Regions from separate parts of the Homo sapiens genome. Here regions 1 and 3 are each reported to be linked to region 2. The links are microRNA targets in miRTarBase. Many come from high-throughput screens and were not tested one by one. Region 2 holds a microRNA gene; each other region holds the end of a gene's coding sequence.
The links. Region 2 holds the annotated microRNA hsa-miR-4717-5p (UAGGCCACAGCCACCCAUGUGU, at 2,097-2,118, shown strand). A microRNA usually pairs through its seed, bases 2 to 8, with sites in the 3' UTR of a target mRNA and lowers its output. Matches are read on the target gene's strand: a 7mer-m8 pairs with bases 2 to 8, a 7mer-A1 pairs with bases 2 to 7 and ends in A, and an 8mer does both.

Region 1: the mRNA of SDC4 is a reported target of hsa-miR-4717-5p. Seed matches in the 3' UTR shown: 7mer-m8 at 2,301-2,307.
Region 3: miRTarBase lists UQCR10 as a target of hsa-miR-4717-5p. Seed matches in the 3' UTR shown: 7mer-A1 at 1,904-1,910.

The regions. Positions count from the first base shown.
Region 1 is chr20:45,324,569-45,327,912 of GRCh38, forward strand. It overlaps SDC4 (syndecan 4), which reads right to left. Exons shown (of 5, transcript NM_002999.4): 5 at 720-2,847. The coding sequence ends at 2,696. Among named protein-coding and RNA genes, the nearest start is that of MATN4, 18 kb to the left of the region's middle.
Region 2 is chr16:2,272,533-2,275,876 of GRCh38, forward strand. MIR4717 (microRNA 4717) reads left to right here and starts at 2,088; the gene lies at 2,088-2,159. It overlaps MIR3677HG (MIR3677 and MIR940 host gene), which reads left to right. Exons shown (of 3, transcript NR_132988.1): 3 at 455-540.
Region 3 is chr22:29,769,129-29,772,128 of GRCh38, reverse strand. UQCR10 (ubiquinol-cytochrome c reductase, complex III subunit X) reads right to left here. Exons shown (of 2, transcript NM_013387.4): 2 at 1,716-2,451. The coding sequence ends at 2,410. Among named protein-coding and RNA genes, the nearest start is that of UQCR10, 3.3 kb to the right of the region's middle.

The sequences.
Region 1 (3,344 bases), not on the chromosome of region 2:
CCACCAATTCCTGTTTGCGTCCTTTCCCCAACCCCAGCAAAGTACTGGGCAACATGGTGCCAAAGGAAGATCACCAATGTCCAAGGACCTGAAATTAAGGTTCGACTCTCCAGACACACTAGGGGCAGGTTGCCCTCTTGGTAACAAGGATCTTACCCACCTCACAGGGTTGTTATAGTGGTCAAGAAAGATGGCCCATGCTATTTCCGGAGACTGCCAGCCAGCCTGGCTGCAGCAGTGGCCTGAGTGAAGCAGGCGGAGACAGTGGTGCGGAGAGCCCACATCTAGATGGGTGCCTGCCGCTCAGCAGCTCTCTTGTTGCCATGCAGGCTGACAGTTGCCAATTTTTTTTATTTCTTTTTCCCAAGAAAAGTGAGAAATCTGGATTTTTATGAGAAACCTCCTGATTTCTATGGATGGCAACTGACGCAAAGATTTTTGTGTTTGCTATTTAAACACAGTGCCACCTAAACAAAACCTTGAAGTAGGGGTGATATGCTGCATAGGCCATCAGGGTGCATGTTCTGAAGTCTTCCCTCTTCTCTAGGCCCCTTCCTGCCTTCTTACCTCTCTGCCCCCACCCTCTGCCCACCCCCGGCATGTCTGGCACCCCGTAGGGGATTTGGTCCGGGGAGTTTCTTCATGCTCCACTGAGATCAAGGGGATACAGAGCCCAAAAAGGATGACTTGTTATGAACGAAAATGACAGAGGCAAGCAGTTTAGAAAGTACCAGGTTTTATTATCTTTTTATCAAAAAAAATCAGTAACAGACAACAGTGTGAGAGGTGCCTACAGAGGAGGTGCTCACTCCAACACAGCCCAAGGGGAAGGGCACTGGGGGCAGAAGAGGACCCAGCCAGCTGGGACCCTGGGTTGCAGTGGTGACGGGAGCTAATGGCCACTGGTGCAGCAAGGGAGGGTGGTTCCCCTCACCGCAGCCACTGGGGTCAGGAGGAGACACGACCTGCCCAGGCTAAGCCACCAGGCCTCCCCTCTCAGGAGAGGGAGGGTCCCAGACAACAGGCCCCAGCTGGGGCCTCATCAGCCCTCCCCCATTCCCCCCCCCCTACCCAGGGAGACAAGGGTCGTCCCAGCACAGCTGAGGCTGTGACTCGTTAAGCCAGTTTAGTTCTCTAGAATAGTGCTGTCCAACAGATGGACATGCTCTCGCTGTCAGTACAGTAGCCATGAACTACATACAGTGACGCCTCTAGAAACGTGGTTAGTGCAACTGAGGAAGGAATTTTTAATCTTATGTGATTTTAATTGGCTTAACTTTAAACAGCCGCATGTGGTTACTGTATTGGATAGCACAGCCCTAGAGCCTGAAGAAAGCAAACCAAAGAACACCAGCTGGGTCCCAAACAGAAGGCAGAAAGGGTAGAACCATCCACCTCAACTATTCCAGCCCCATCAGAAGGCACCAGGAACAGGGCAAGAGAAAAAGGCAAAAACCCACCCAGCCACATGAAAATTCACTCACTCAACCACCCAGCAACATCAAACTGGAAACACCACACTATTTCCTGAAAAAAATATATTTATCTATTTTTCTAGAACCAAGGAAGAATAATAATATATTATAAGAACACAGACACAAATATCCCACCATCCCCTTCATTATATTTTGGGATCTGCTAAAAAAAAACTATGTTTCGGCAAAAGCTATTTTATAAGAGGAAGCAGCTTCAGAAAGGGCCAAGGCCATGAGGAGCGGGGTTTAAAGTATAAAAAAAAAACTGGGGAAGGGGTTTAATGAAAGAGAACAAAGAAAGAAGAGGGGAAGGGAGGCCCTATCTAAAGCTATAAATAGTAAAAAAAAAAAAAAAAAAAAAAAATTAATAAAAATCATCTCTCCGGCTCTTCTCTCATTTTCAAGAAACAAACAAAAACAAAAACAAAAACCATTAAATACAAACTTAGCAGGTGCTGTGGAAATGTGCGAGAGAATGAAGACACCTCGGCACCTCCACACTCTTGCCCAGGCAGAGATATACACTCTGCACAAAGGAATGAACAGTTAAAAAAACGAACAAACACTAAAAATAGATTTACAAATATTCTATAAATCCATTTCAGCATAAACTCTCAGCTCTTTTCCCCATCCTCCCCCCCAAATAAAAAAGGTTGATTTCCAAAAGTCACTTGAAAGAGCCTAGAATGGCCCCAGGTATATACCACAGAGATTCCCGTAGTGTGATCACAAGTACCCATTTACAGAAACATCTCAAGGTGCAGGTGGTTCTAGTTCCTTCCCCCATTTCCTGGCAGAGAGACCGGCTGTGAAAGGAAGGGAGGAAGGCCACTGGGGGAGGACCTCCAGCCAGGACTCCACACAACATCCGTTAGCCCCCTGGCTTCAGAGGAGCTCTGGATGAGGCATGGTCAGTATGGGCTTGAGGGCGGACCTAGATTCTTAACTGGAAGTTTAAGAAGTGATCCAATCCCAGTCTTGCCTTCAGAAAGGCCAAGTTGAATCCATTTTTCTGCCAGGGCAACTGAGGCCCAAAGCTCAAGAAGAACCTGGCAGAACAGTAGAAGACAATGTCTCTTCTGAACACTTCAAAGGTAATCAGAGCTGGAGATACTGACAAGTCAGTATTAGGTTGACCTCACCCTACCCTAATGTCCACCCTTCAAAATCCCCTGGCTTCCCTCCCCGCTAAAGTCCAAGCCAGTGCCCACAAGCAAGCTTCACGCGTAGAACTCATTGGTGGGGGCTTTCTTGTAGATGGGTTTCTTGCCCAGGTCATAGCTGCCTTCATCCTTCTTCTTCATACGGTACATGAGCAGTAGGATCAGGAAGACGGCAAAGAGGATGCCCACGATGCCACCCACAATCAGAGCTGGAGAGGAGGAGAGAGAAGAGGCGGGGGTGAGAGCTCCTCATCAGGACCTAAGGATGAACCCCTCTTTCCCCCACTGTCAGTTCTCTTACAACCAGACATCCTCACCATCACCACTGCCTGTGCCAGGCAAGCTGATGCCTTATTTAAGTTGACCTCATGACCCCAGTTATAAGAAGTGGGTCGTTGGCATTTTAAGTCACTGAAGACCACAGGGCTAGTGGTAAGGCCACTCCTTTTTCTTTTTGAGACGAAGTCTCACTCTGTTGCCCGAGCTGAGTGCAGTGGCGTGATCTCGGCTTACTGCAACCTCCACCTCCCAGGTTCAAGCAATTCTCCTGCCTCAGCCTCCTGAGTAGCTGGGATTATAGGCACGTGCCACCATGCCCGGCTAATTTTTGTATTTTTAGTAGAGATAGGGTTTCACTATGTTGGCCAGGCTGGTCTTGAACTCCTGACCTTGCCCATCTCGGCCTCCCAAAGTGCTGGGATTACAG
Region 2 (3,344 bases):
AGTGGTGTCTCCTGGAGCTGGTGAGACCCCACCTCACTCAGGAAACCCCCCAGACGCCCCCAGGCAGAAGTGGCCATACTCCAGGGCCTGCATCCCTGTGCCCCACAGTGCGCCCTGGCCGGTTGGTTGTAGGAACTCAGAAAAGCAAAGCAAACAGGATGGTTCCCTGCTGGACACATTACATTCCCTGCTGGACACATTTCTATTGCAGATCTTTAGTCCAGGATTCCAGGGTAGCCAAGGTCACCTGAGTCCTGGGGACTCTGGGCCTGGTCTCTGAAAGCAGCCAGTAAGACAGAGATGGGAAACCCAGCAAGATGGAGTGAGCCAAGGGCACAGTTGGGTCCAGGCGCAGCAGGGAGCTGCCTGGGGGTGACACACACTTGACGGAGGCCACTGCACACACCCTACCCCGGCCTGAACTTGAGCACTTCCTTTTTTTTTTTTTTTTTAGATGGAGTCTCACTGTAGTCCAGATGGAGTGCAATGGCGTGATCTCGGCTCACTGCAAGCTCCGCCTCCCCGGTTCACGCCATTCTCTTGCCTCAGCCTCCTGAGTAGCTGGGACTACAGGTGCCCGCCACCACACCCGGCTAATTTTTTTGTATTTTTAGTAGAGACGGGGTTTCACCGTGTTAGCCAGGATGGTCTTGATTTTTCGACTTCATGATCCGCCTGCCTCGGCCTCCCAAAGTGCTGGGATTACAGGCGTGAGCCACCATGCCCGGCCAAGCACTTCCTTGAACACAGAGGTGACCATGAGGAGGGAGGCGTGAACCAGGATGACGGGGCAGCAGATGGAGCCTGCCTCCCTGAGACCTCAGGTGACCGAGTGCTGGACTGCCTCCTCCTGCCTACATGGCTGAGAAATAAACTTCTTTTTCAAACCACTGTGACCTGGGGTTTTCTGATACCCTCAGCAAGCCTGTTCCTGTGGCCTGGTGTGGGTCCCCTGACCTGTGGCCTGGGCTGCCTGTATCCGGCCTGCCCCTCTGCTCCGCTGTAAACCTGTGATGGCAGTGGAGGGGCTTGGCCTGGGCCCGCCCCACCGCGAGGTCTTCCCCTCTCCGAGTTCTGGGTGTGGTTTCAGTTGAGCCACGCCGTTGGACTGGGCCGGCCTGGAGGACAGAAGGCACAGGCTCTTCCACATACCTGGCTCGTGGCCCATGGGCCGTCTGCTCACGGGAGCCCTGCACCAGGCCATGCAGAGCAGTGAAGTCAAAACCTCGTTTCCCAGGTCTAAGGTGAACTGGGAGCAGGGCAGGAGTTGGCTCTGTCAGATGCCACAGTTGTTTGGGGACAGTGTCCGTAGAGAATGTGTGGCCCCCCTCCGTGGTCTAGGGTGGAGCGTGGATAGGCCGGTCACTCCTATCCCTGGGCCCAAGGCTCTTTTCCCCTGCCCTCCCGTGGGCTGGGAACTGCCACAGCTCAGACAAAAATCGGCCAGGGCAGGGTCCTGAGGCTTCAGTCCCAGGCTCCTTAGGGCACCCCTGGTGACCCAGCTCCAGCACTGAGTTTCCAGAGGCCTTGAGGATTTCCCTGGGATGCCAGATGGGCCCTTCCTGCTGCTCCTGGGGTCATCTAAGCTCCAGGCTTGGGTGCAGCCCTGGGCCCCTGCCACAGACGCCCTGAATGCACCTGCCCCTCCCGGTCCCCACGCAGCAGCCTCCTGAGCTGCGGATCATTTTCCTAAGAAGGCATTCTACTTGTGCCAGTCCTTACTTAAAGACCCCTGCTGGTGCTGGCAGCGTGCTACCGGGAAGGATGGTATCTCCTGTGCGTGTCCTGTGTACGCTGGCCTCACACGTGTGTGCCTCATGCGGGCTGTGCCCTCAGTCCTATACGCTCTCCCCAACCCTCTTTTAGGGTGTCACAGGAGAAAAATGACACATTCCTAAATCTCTAACACATGGGCTTGAAAACAAGTCTGAGGATGCCCTGCAGAAGGGCCATGGGCATGGACATGGAGCTGGGTGGCCTCGTGCACTGACCTTTCCCTCTTCCTAGCCCCAGGCCCGACCTAGAGGCCACAGCCCCTGCGGACAGGCTGTGGGGCCAGAAGGGCCCACTTCAGAACTTTTCTCGTGGGCAGTGTTTAGGCCACAGCCACCCATGTGTAGGGGTGGCTACACATGGGTGGCTGTGGCCTAAACACTGCCCAAACACGTTATATTTTTTATAACATGGAACTAGATGGCAGAAGTTTAAAGGGAATAAAAGAGCTACTGGAGACGATTTGCAGCTTTCATAAATTTCCAGAGACTGATAAAAACACAGACTTGAAATTGTCCCAAATGAGCCAAAGTGATGAAAACAAGTCTTTTCTAAAACTCTGAATTCTAAGGGAATGTAAAATGCAGAAGTTCAAATCGGGTTTAGAAAACCATAAGAAATAATAGTGCATTCGCCGGGCATGGTGGCTCACGCCTGTGATCCCAGCACTTTGGGAGGCCAAGGCAGGTGGATCACTTGAGGTCAGGGGTTTGGCAGCAGCCTGGCCAACATGAGACCTCGTCTATACTAAAAATAAAATTTAGCCATGCATGGTGGCGCATGCCCTTAGTCCCAGCCACTCCGGAGGCTGGGGTGGGAGGATTGCATGAGCCCAGGTGTTTGAGGCTGCAGTGAGCTGTGATACCACCACTGCACTCCACGCTGGGCAGCAGAGCAAGATCCTGTCTCCAAAAGACAAAACACAAAACAGTGCATAAAAAGGGGCCAGGCACGGTGGCTTATGGCTGTAATCCCAGTACTTTGGGAGTCTGAGGTGGGTGGATCACTTCAGGTCAGGAGTTCGAGACCAGGCTGACCAAGATGGTGAAACCCCGTCTCTACTAAAAACACAAAAATTAGCTGGGTGTGGTGGCGCGTGCCTGTTGTCCCAGCTACTCGGGAGGCAGAGGCAGGAGAATGGCTTGAACCCGGGAGGCAGAAGTTGCAGTGAGCCAAGATTGCGCCACTGCACTCCAGCCTGGGCAACAAAGCAAGACTCCATAAATAACTAAAAAGGGAGCTGATGAGGAGTTATTTCTGGGAAATGGCAAATGCCCACGGGTGACCCTGATGCCAGCAGCTTCTCTCCCACCAGACCTGTGCTTCCCACACAGCCCCACCTGCTCTTGTCTTTAGACTAAGAGCCTGTCACCGGGCGTTGATCTAGCCGGCTTTTTCCTTTGTGTTATGGGCCTGTTCCTTCACCTCAGTGTATTCTCTGCGTGTGCTCCCTTCTGGGAAAAGCAACGTCCCACGTTTGTGTGATTGAAATGTGAAAGGAGAGCCTCATGTCTAGATTGTGGGCGAGTGATTGAGCCCTGTGACCGCTCGCGCGTGTGACCCACAGACTG
Region 3 (3,000 bases), not on the chromosome of region 2:
GGACTACAGGCGCCCGCCACCACGCCCGGCTAATGTTTTTGTATTTTTAGTAGAAATGGGGTTTCACCGTGTTAGCCAGGATGGTCTCAATCTCCTGACCTCGTGATCCACCCACCTCGGCCTCACAAAGTGCTGGGATTACAGGCGTGAGCCACCACGCCCGGCCTACAGCTCCTCTATTTTTAAAAATTTAATTTAAAAACATTTTTGGCTGGGCATGGTGGCTCACGCCTGTAATCCCAACACTTTGGGAAGCCAAGGCAGGAGGATGTCTTGAGTCCAGGAGTTCGAGACCAGCCTGGGCAACATGGCAAAACCCTACCTCTACAAAAAATACAAAAAAACTAGTGGGGAGTGGTGGCGCACACCTGTAGTCCCAGCTACCTGGGAGGCTGAGGTGGGAGGATTGTTTGCACCCAGGTCGAGGCTGCATTGAGCTGAGATCAGGCCATAGCATTCCATTCTGGATGACAGAGCAAGACAGTCTTGCTGTCTCCCAGGCTGGAGTGTAGTGGCGCAATCTCGGCTCACTGTAACCTCCACTTCCCGAGTTCAAGCAATTCTCCTGCCTCAGCCTCCCGAGTAGCTGGGATTACAAGCATATGCCACCACACTCGGCTAATTTTTGTATTTTTAGTAGAGATGGGGTTTCACCATGTTGGCCAGGCTGGTCTTGAGCTCCTGACCTTAAGTGATCCGCCTGCCTTGGCCTCCCAAAGTGCTGGGATTACAGGTGTGAGACACTATGCCCAGCCAAAAATTTTTAGAGACAGGGTCTCACTCTCCCCCAGGCAGGAGTGCAGTGGCACAATCATAACTCACTGTAACCTTAACTTCTTGGCTCAAGTAATCCTCCCACCTCAGCCTCCCAAGTAGCTGGGATTATAGGCTGGTGCCACCATGCTCAGGTAATTTTAAATTTTTTTGTAGAGGCAGGGTATCTCACTATGTTGCTTAGACTGGTCTTAAACTGTTGGCCTCAAGCAATCCTCCCACCTCAGCCTCCTAAAGTGCTGGGATTACAGGCCTGCAACTCCTTTAATACTCCCAAAAATCCCACACAGTATGTTCTACTACCCCATTTTACAGATAAGGAAACCGGAGTTCAGCAAGTTCAAGTGCCTTGCCCTTGTGTATTAGTCCATTTTCACGCTGCTGATAAAGACATACCCGAGACTGGGTAATTTATAAAAAGAGGTTTAATGCATTCGCATTTCCACATGGCTGAGGAGGCCTCACAATCATGGTGGAAGGCGAAAGGCCCGTCTTACATGGCAGCAGGCAAGAGAATCAGAGCCAAGCAAAAGGGGAAACCCCTTATAAAATCATCAGATCTCGTGAGACTTATTCACTATCACGAGAACAGTGTGGGGGAACCGCTCCCATGATTCAATTATCTCCCACCGAGTCCCTCCCACAACACATGGGCACTATGGGAGCTACAATTCAAAACGAGATTTGGGTGGGGACACAGCCAAACCATATCACCTTGGTTCCCATAGCTAGAATCAGTGGAGTAAGGATTCAAACCCACCAACTAAGCACTTTTATGAACTGAACTCATCAGAGTGGAACTGTGGCAGGAGGCTGTGACCCAGAGAGGTATGACTGCTTACCAAAAGATACTCAGTAATAGGCAGAATACACCAAGCTTGTCCAACCCGTGGCCTGCAGGCTGCACGCAGCCCAGGATGGCTTTGAATGAGGCCCAAACACAAATTCTTCAACTTTATTAAAACATTATGAGATTTTTGCACAAACCATTGTTTTTTGTTTTAGCTCATCAGCTATGGTTACTGTATTTTATGTGTGGCCCAAGACAATTCTTCCAACATGGCCCAGGGAAGCCAAAGGATTGGATACCCCTGAACTATACCCTAGGGTGGGGAGTGGCTAAGACCCCTAGGCCAGGGTCTTTCCCCCAGCTGAGGCCATAGTGCTTCCCCATGGCCAAGACAGTGAGGTATTTAAGAATGGAATTACTGGCTTAGAAGCCAAAGTTGACTGTAATATCTCCAACTCTGGCTCCTGTTTTGAAAACCAGAATTCTTTGGAAGTTAATGGAAAACTCAAAATAGCAGATTCTGCCTTTGGGGTGTTTGCAGAGGGCTTTGAAGTGGTCTCAAATTACTGACAAGTGAAGATCAGGTAGAGTTAACAAAGCAACCAATGTAGAAGCAGGTCTCAAGGGCAATTCACATTTATTTCCTGAGCATGCTGACTAAACATACTTCAAACACAGCAGAAGGTAAAGAGTCTGTTTTGTAAGTAAAGCCGTTTCTTGCCAACAGCGAATGGTGGTCCATGAAGAGTACCTTGAGCATCATCTTCAAGCTGAGGCTCCAGCTCTGGGCAAACAGCTGCTGGGTGGACCTGGTCCTTCTGGCCTGGATGGGGGCCTCCAAGGAACTACTTGTTCTCATACTTGTGCTTGATGTGTTTCCACAGCTTCTGCATTTTAAAGACAAGAGCCACAAACTTTGACCTTTGCCTCTCACATTTTACAACTACTCCCACTGCCCTGGTCTCTAAAATGAGCTTGGGGGAAACACATGCCATGTCCTGATTAAAAAGATACACTTGTGGTGGGCAAACTCGAAGCAATCCTATGCTTGATGCACATTTTTTTTTTGAGACGGAGACTCGCTCTATCGCCCAGGCTGGAGTGTAGTGGCGCAATCTCGGCTCACTGCAACCTCAGCCTCTTGGGTTCGAGCGATTCTCCTGCCTCAGCTTCAAGAGCAGCTGGGAATACAGGTATGCGCTACCCGGCTAATTTTTGTATTTTTAGTAGAGATGGGGTTTCGCCATGTTGGCCAAGCTGGTCTCAAACTCCTGACCTCAAGTGATCTGCCTGCCTTGGCCTCCCAAAGCGCTGGGATGACAGGTGTGAGCCACCGCGCCGAGCCTTCATGCATAATTCTTGGCATTTATAAAATACTATGATGCTTTCAATCACCAGGTGAAGTAAGTGGAAAGGGGTGATCTTAATTTCACAGG